Linked DNA regions of Homo sapiens. The gene in region 1 interacts genetically with each later gene. Each region holds a gene or a part of one and is shown on either strand. Other genes may lie near its edges.

Evidence for each region. A genetic interaction does not mean that the proteins touch.
Region 2: changes in PKLR (region 1) and MAPK12 together harm fitness more than expected from each alone (negative genetic interaction), as found in Homo sapiens cells (one large-scale study listed by BioGRID).

What each region holds. Positions count from the first base shown.
Region 1 is NC_000001.11:155,294,939-155,298,587, reverse strand, and holds part of PKLR (pyruvate kinase PKLR), read left to right. Parts: intron 1-2,831; coding exon 2,832-2,923; intron 2,924-3,019; coding exon 3,020-3,151; intron 3,152-3,285; coding exon 3,286-3,472; intron 3,473-3,649. UniProt on the Homo sapiens protein: Pyruvate kinase that catalyzes the conversion of phosphoenolpyruvate to pyruvate with the synthesis of ATP, and which plays a key role in glycolysis.
Region 2 is NC_000022.11:50,255,474-50,258,763, forward strand, and holds part of MAPK12 (mitogen-activated protein kinase 12), read right to left. Parts: intron 2,829-3,290; coding exon 2,770-2,828; intron 1,721-2,769; coding exon 1,609-1,720; intron 1,492-1,608; coding exon 1,462-1,491; intron 1,174-1,461; coding exon 1,126-1,173; intron 727-1,125; coding exon 612-726; intron 409-611; coding exon 337-408; intron 222-336; coding exon 142-221; intron 59-141; coding exon 1-58. UniProt on the Homo sapiens protein: Serine/threonine kinase which acts as an essential component of the MAP kinase signal transduction pathway.

The DNA of each region.
Region 1 (3,649 bases):
TGGGAGGCCGAGGCGGGCGGATCACCTGAGGTCAGGAGTTCGAGACCAGCCTCAACATGGAGAAACCCCGTCTCTACTAAAAATACAAAAAATTATCCGGGCATGGTGGTGCATGCCTGTAATCCCAGCTACTCAGGAGGCTAAGGCAGGAGAATTGCTTGAACCTGGGAGGCGGAGGTTGCGGTGAGCCAAGATCGTGCCATTGCACCCCAGCCTGGGCAACAAGAGCGAAACTCCGTCTCAAAAAAAAAAAAGGCCAGGCGTGGTGTTTCATGCCTGTAATCCCAGCACTTTGGGAGGCCGAGGCAGACTGATCACGAGGTCAAGAGATCGATACCATCCTGGCCAACATGGTGAAACCCCGTCTCTAATAAAAATACAAAAATTAGCTGGGCGTGGTGGCACATGCCTGTAGTCCCAGCTACTCGGAAGGCTGAGGCAGGAGAATCACTTGAACTGGAAGGCAGGGAGCAGAGATCGCACCTCTGTCCTCCAGCCTGGTGACAGAGCGAGATTCCATCTAAAAAAAAAAGAAAAGAAAAGAAAGAAAAAGTGAAAGTTTTAAGTGCTATGGGGAAAGAAATCAAGTGTGATAAGGGCATCAGGAGTACGAGGGTGAAGACAGGTTGCAGCCCTAAATAGGGAGGTCAGTTATTATTGAGTAAATGAGACCAAAGGGAAGACTTGAAGGAGATGAGAGAATTAGCCATGCAGAGACCTGGGGGAAGAGAATTCCAGGAAGAAGGATCAGTCAGTGTCAAGGCCTAAGTCAAGAAGGTTAGAAGAGCTAGAAACCATCAAGGGGGAAGAGCGGCAGACATGAAGAGACTGTGTACGGACAGGAAGATCAGGTGCAGCTTTGTAGGCCATTTTTAGAATTTGAGTTGCGTTTTCCTCCGAGTGAAATGAGAAACTGCTGCAGGGTTTTGAGCAGGGGAATGACAAGCTCTTATTTATGTTTTAATAGAGCCTCCCCTCCCCTGCTGCTGCACTGAAAATAGATGGGGGGTGGGGGGAAGGGTGCCCCTGCAGTATTTCTGGCTCAGACCAGTTGGCGGCAGTGAGGTGGTGAGAAGTGGTCAGATTCTGAATGTATTTTGCAGGTAGAGCTGACAGGATTTGCTAATTGATCGGATATGGGGTATGGAGTGTGGGCGAGAAAGAAAGGAGTCAAAGGTGACAGGTGACTCTGAGGTTTTTGCCATAAGGAACTGGAACGATGCATTAGCCACTGAGCAGGAAAGACTGTGGTGGAAGGGGTTGGGGGGAGAGCAGAAGTTTGCTTGGGACATGTTGAGTCTGAGATGCTTATTAGCCATCCAAATGTGATAGAGGGGGCAGTCAGGTACACAACTCTGGGTTTGGGAGAAAGGTCTGGATTGGAGAGACATTTGGGAGTTGGCTACATATAGATGGTATCTCAAGCCATGAGACTAGTTGAGACCACCAAAGGAGTGTAGGTGAAATGACGGAGAAGAGAACAGGGTATCTAACGTTAAGGGGAGGAACAAGGAAAGGAGACTGGGAAAGAGCAGCTAGTGAGGTAGGAGTCAACCAAGAGAGGGTGCAGCCCTGGAGGTCAGGTGAAGACAGTGTGTCAAAGAAGGATGTATGTTCAGGCTGCTGATGGGCCAATAGAGGAGGACTGAGCATTGAGCATTACATGGAGCAAAAACACAGAGGTTCTTGGTGACCTTGACAAGAACAGATGCAGTGGAGAGATGGAGGCCAACGCCTGAGTGGGGTGGGTTCAAGGGAGAATGGGGGAGGGGAACTAGAGGTAGCAAGTACAGATAACTCTTGCGATGAGTTTTGCTGCAAGTGAGAGCAAATACTGGGACTGAGGGGAAACCAGGAGATTAAGAGAATTTTTTTTTAATGATGAAAGAAATAACAGTAGGTTTACCTGCGGATGGGGATGATCCAGTAAAAAAGGAAAACATGGCTGGGCACGGTGACTCACACCTGTAATCCCAGCATTTTGGGAGGGCGAGGTGGATGGATCACCTGAGGTCAAGAGTTCAAGACCAACCTGGCCAGCATGGTGAAACCCCTTCTCTACTAAAAATACAAAAAAATTAGCCAGGCGTGGTGGTGCACACCTGTAATCCCAGCTACTCAGGAGGCTGAAGCAGGATAATCACTTGAACTGGGGAGGCAGAGGTTGCAGTGAGCTGAGATGGTGCCACTGCACTCCAGCCTGGGCGACAAGAGTGAAACTCCCCCCGTCTCAAAAAAAAAGAAAGAAAAAGAAAAGGAAAACATGGGTGTCACAGAGGACCACAGAATGGCTTAATTTATGTCCTTGAGCAGGTGAGAAGGAGGAGACCTAGTGCACAAGTGGAAAGACAGATAGGGACCGAAGAATGAGCCAACCTGCTCTCGGCTAGCAGCTGCCCCATAGCAGTGCAGGCATGGGATAGAACTCAGCTCTCCTCAGTCCATGAGGCCTCCTAGCTCTAAAAGCCCGCACCCAAACGCCCTCACCTGGCTCCCAGCCCCTGCCCTACACCCCATACCCTGGGGTAGCCGGGCAAGCAGCACTTACATACCCATGCCCATACAGTGCCCATACATGCCCATACAGTGACCTCAGGCCTGGCGGAGGGCACTCCCCTCCGATTTCCACACTGCTGCCTCCCCAAGGGGATGGATGTTGGCTTGAGAGGGAAGGGGAGTCTGTGATCTGTGGGCAGGGGTTGCATCAGGGAATAAAGATCAGGTAACAGGACGCCTGTGGCGTGAGGCGTTCTGAGAATGGTAATGGGTTGGGTTTGGTTGCCTCTCATGTTCTGGGGGAACGTTGTCTGAACGTGAATCTCTGGTTCTAGGGCCAGCATCTCGCTCCGTGGAGCGCCTCAAGGAGATGATCAAGGCCGGGATGAACATTGCGCGACTCAACTTCTCCCACGGCTCCCACGAGGTGCGGGACGGGCCGCCGGGCAGTGGGTGGGGCAGGAGGATGCCTCGAGGTCCTGGCCACCTTCCCCTGAAACCCTCGCTCCGCTCCCTCCCCCAGTACCATGCTGAGTCCATCGCCAACGTCCGGGAGGCGGTGGAGAGCTTTGCAGGTTCCCCACTCAGCTACCGGCCCGTGGCCATCGCCCTGGACACCAAGGGACCGGAGATCCGCACTGGGATCCTGCAGGGGGTGAGCAGTGGGGCTGGGACTCGCTGGGCCAGGGCCGGAAAGGCGGCGCCTGTAGGGTTGGGCCCAGGCGTGGGCAGGGGCGGGTCCCGGACTCCGGGGCTCAGAACTCACATCTCCTCTGGCTCCCTCCTTAGGGTCCAGAGTCGGAAGTGGAGCTGGTGAAGGGCTCCCAGGTGCTGGTGACTGTGGACCCCGCGTTCCGGACGCGGGGGAACGCGAACACCGTGTGGGTGGACTACCCCAATATTGTCCGGGTCGTGCCGGTGGGGGGCCGCATCTACATTGACGACGGGCTCATCTCCCTAGTGGTCCAGAAAATCGGTGCGGACGCGCCTCCCGCCCTGACCACATCCGTGCGCTGGGCACATTCCCTTCTCCTTGGCTCCCCCATCAGCCCTCAGACCGATCACACCTTCCCCTGGCCACGCGTTTTTGCCAGCCCGTCCCAGGAGTCCCCAGCGTGTAGACTCTGCGCTCACCCTGGGTTTGGGCTGGACT
Region 2 (3,290 bases), on another chromosome or scaffold:
GGATAGAGGCAAAATCCTTCTTCTCCAATTCGGGGAGGCCCTTCATGTAGTTCTTGGCCTGTGTGGGAAGAAAGGGTGAGGGGCCAACACCAAGGCCCAGGTCCGCCCCCACCCCCACCCAGCTCCCCACTCACCCCTTACCTCATCGCTCTGCAGCCGCTGCACAAACTCAGCCGGAGGCGTCCCCGTCACCTTCATGATCTCCTTCAGCTGGTCCAGGTCTGCACCGAGGTCAGGAACACAGCTCGGGGGCCAGAGATCAGGGCCCCCACTGCCCCCACCTGGGCAGGAGCCATCCCCACCCGCCCCTGGTGCCGCCCTGCGGCTGGAGGATACGGTCGCTGCCCTTGAACAGCGTCTTGCCTGTGATCATCTCCGCCATGATGCAGCCCACAGACCAGATGTCCACTGAGATAGAAGCCCTGGTCAGCTCCGTGGGCAGGGGGACAGGATGAGACGGGGAGGGAGGAGACACCAACACAGCCCACCTGCCCGGCTCCCACCCCAGCTCAACAGCCTCCCTGGGAGCAGCCACCACAGGGCTGTCCGTGAAGAAGTGGAGAAGCAGATGGTGCAGCCTGAGAGGCCCAGATCTCTGGGCAGCTTCTCACCCGTCTGCGTGTAGCGCATCCAATTCAAGATGACCTCGGGAGCCCGGTACCACCGGGTCACCACGTACCCAGTCATCTCACTGTCTGCCTGCCTGGCCAGGCCGAAGTCCAGGATCTGTGGGAAGAATTGGGGAGGTGGGTTCTAGGGGACTCCCAAGGAGCGGACAGGCCACCCACGGTCCAGGAGACCCCGGGGGGTTGGACTTGAAGCTCCCAAGCTGGGGCCTCCTGACAACCTTCAAGGACTTGAGGCCACGCCCTCGGACCCCAAACTGCCCCGAGCTCCTCCCTCTGGCCAGTGCACCAAGCCCAGCAGCCCTCGGGACGGAGCAGGTGCCCTGGGTACGGCATGTTGTGTACCACTGCCTCTTGGGCTCACCCACCCACCAGCTCCTCAGCCACTGCCCAGAGCCTGGGACCTTGGCCCCCTGCCCAGGCCTGACAGGTGGATAGATGGGCAGATCCAGAGGGGGCCCCTGCCCCACCTCAGGGCCCCCTGCCAGGCAGCACACACCTTCAGCTCACAGTCTTCGTTCACAGCCAGGTTGCCGGGCTTCAGGTCCTGGGGGCAGAGGAAAGGTGGCCACTGTGCCCCACCCTCCCAAGCATGGGCACAGCCAAGAGCCTGGGTGGCACCTAAAGATGGGGCCACCGGACCTGGCCCCCTTGCTCTCTGCAGCCCTTCAAGGGCAGACCAAGGTACCTGGGCACCCAGGCAGGTTCCCACCAGGGGCTGTGCATAGGGCGTGGCTCAGCACCCAGACCCCATCACATCCTCACAGGTGGGACGTGGAGGCGGGGGGATTGCACTGGGGGAGGGCTGATGAGCGGCTTCTCCACCGGGACTCACTCTGTGGATGATGCCGGCAGCGTGGATATACTGCGGGGGGCAGAGGATTTGGCAGGCTTCAGCGCACCCTCTCAGAGCCACAGGGCCCTCCTCTGCCCAGCCCCGAGGCCCTGCCTGCCTCCCTGCAGCCTCCCCCGGGGCCCGTACCCTCAGCCCCTTCAGCATCTGGTACACGAGGAACTGGATCCGGTCCTCGCCTAGCTTCTCATGTTTCATGAGCTTGCCCAGGTCGGTGCCCATGAACGGCATCACCAGGTAACTGTGGGAGGGGCCGGAGCGCTGTCAGCGGACAGAGCCAGCCTCTGCATCCCAGAGACCCACCCAGCAGGCCCAGGCTCAGACCCGTCCCGGATCCAACAGGCACCCCCAGGAAGGTCACCCCTGCAGCACACATCCACACTGGCCTCGGTGTCCTCGCAGCCCCACCTTGCAGTGCCAGGCTCCATCCTCCCGCAACTGTTACTGCCAGCAGCGCTCACACCCCCCTCCCACCCTGAGGACTGTCAGGCAGGGAGGAGGCTGCCTTGGGGTTTTTGAACCCTCCGCTGAAGCGCCCTGCGTGCCAGGCTAGGGGCTGAGGCTCCATGGTAGAGGCAGCAGGACTCGAGTCTTCACAGGCAGGGGAGGGAGGCAGTCAGGTTTCAACTTCACAACTTTGTGCCAGAAATGAGGGAGGTGCCTGGGGGCGATGGGGGCGCGGCAAGGCATCTGGGTCAGAGGGGTCGGCTGGGCCGGTGGAGACAGACACAGGAGAATGGTATTTAGCACCTTCCCAGAGGCCACTGACTTGACCTCTGCAAGTCAGGCGGGAGGCGCCTGCTACCCTCTCCAGGCCTTCCTCGGCCTGGCCCTTCACTCTTGGCCGACAGGGTGTGAGTCCCAGGGTGGTCGGCTGCAGGGCAGGGGCAGGGTGGGTCCTCCCTACCGCTTCTCCCCCACCCGCTGGAAAAGGTCAGCAGCTCCAGTTACCGGCCACACACTTGGTGCCAGGGTCCCGAGCACGGGACCTTCCTGTTAACAAATGGTCAGGTCCAAGGTTCACACCTCCGGTGCTGGAGAGGGCCCAGGTGCCAGGCGTGGAGAGAGGCAGCAGCCCCAGCTCTGCCCAGCTGTGCCAGTGCCCGTGGGTCCCAGGACCATGTGGGGGAGGGCGTGGGGTGGACAGTGGTATGGGGAGGGGGTGGGCGGTGTGCATCCCCCACTCAGGCTGCAGGAAGAGAACCCCATTGCCAACCTAGAACCTGAAGCCAGTGCCCAGAGCTGCCCAACACCCCTCGTGCCCAGCGGCCAGCCCAGGTCGGCACTCACAAGTCCGTGAAGTCATCCAGGGTCTCATCAGGAGTGAATACGTCCAGCAGCCCGATCACCTGGGGGGGCCACATAGGGTTGAGAATGCAGCAGAGGACACGGGCTGGGGCACCCCCCAAGAGTGGCACAACCCTCTGGGCAGGAAACCCCCTCTGCAGCTGTCATTGTCATGCCCCACTGTCCAAAGGGCCTGGCTCTGCCCACTGGCAGTGTGGCCCAGCCCTGGCACACATACCCACTGGCAGTGTGGCCCAGCCCTGGCACACATACCCACAGAAAGGTTATTTTTGGACGGTGACAACCGGGATCTTCTGGGGGAGGGGCAACCCGGAGTCTGGGATGGCTCCGAACCATCCAAAGGGCTCCTGCCGCCTGACCCTTTCACCCCTCTTCACCCCAACCAAACAGATCCAGGCCCAGGGTGGGGACAGCGCTATGGAAAGAGGCCAGGCCTCTGCTGGTGAGGCCCAGGCGGACAGCACCGTGACCCACCAGACCTGGTCCCCTCAGCACCCCTGGTT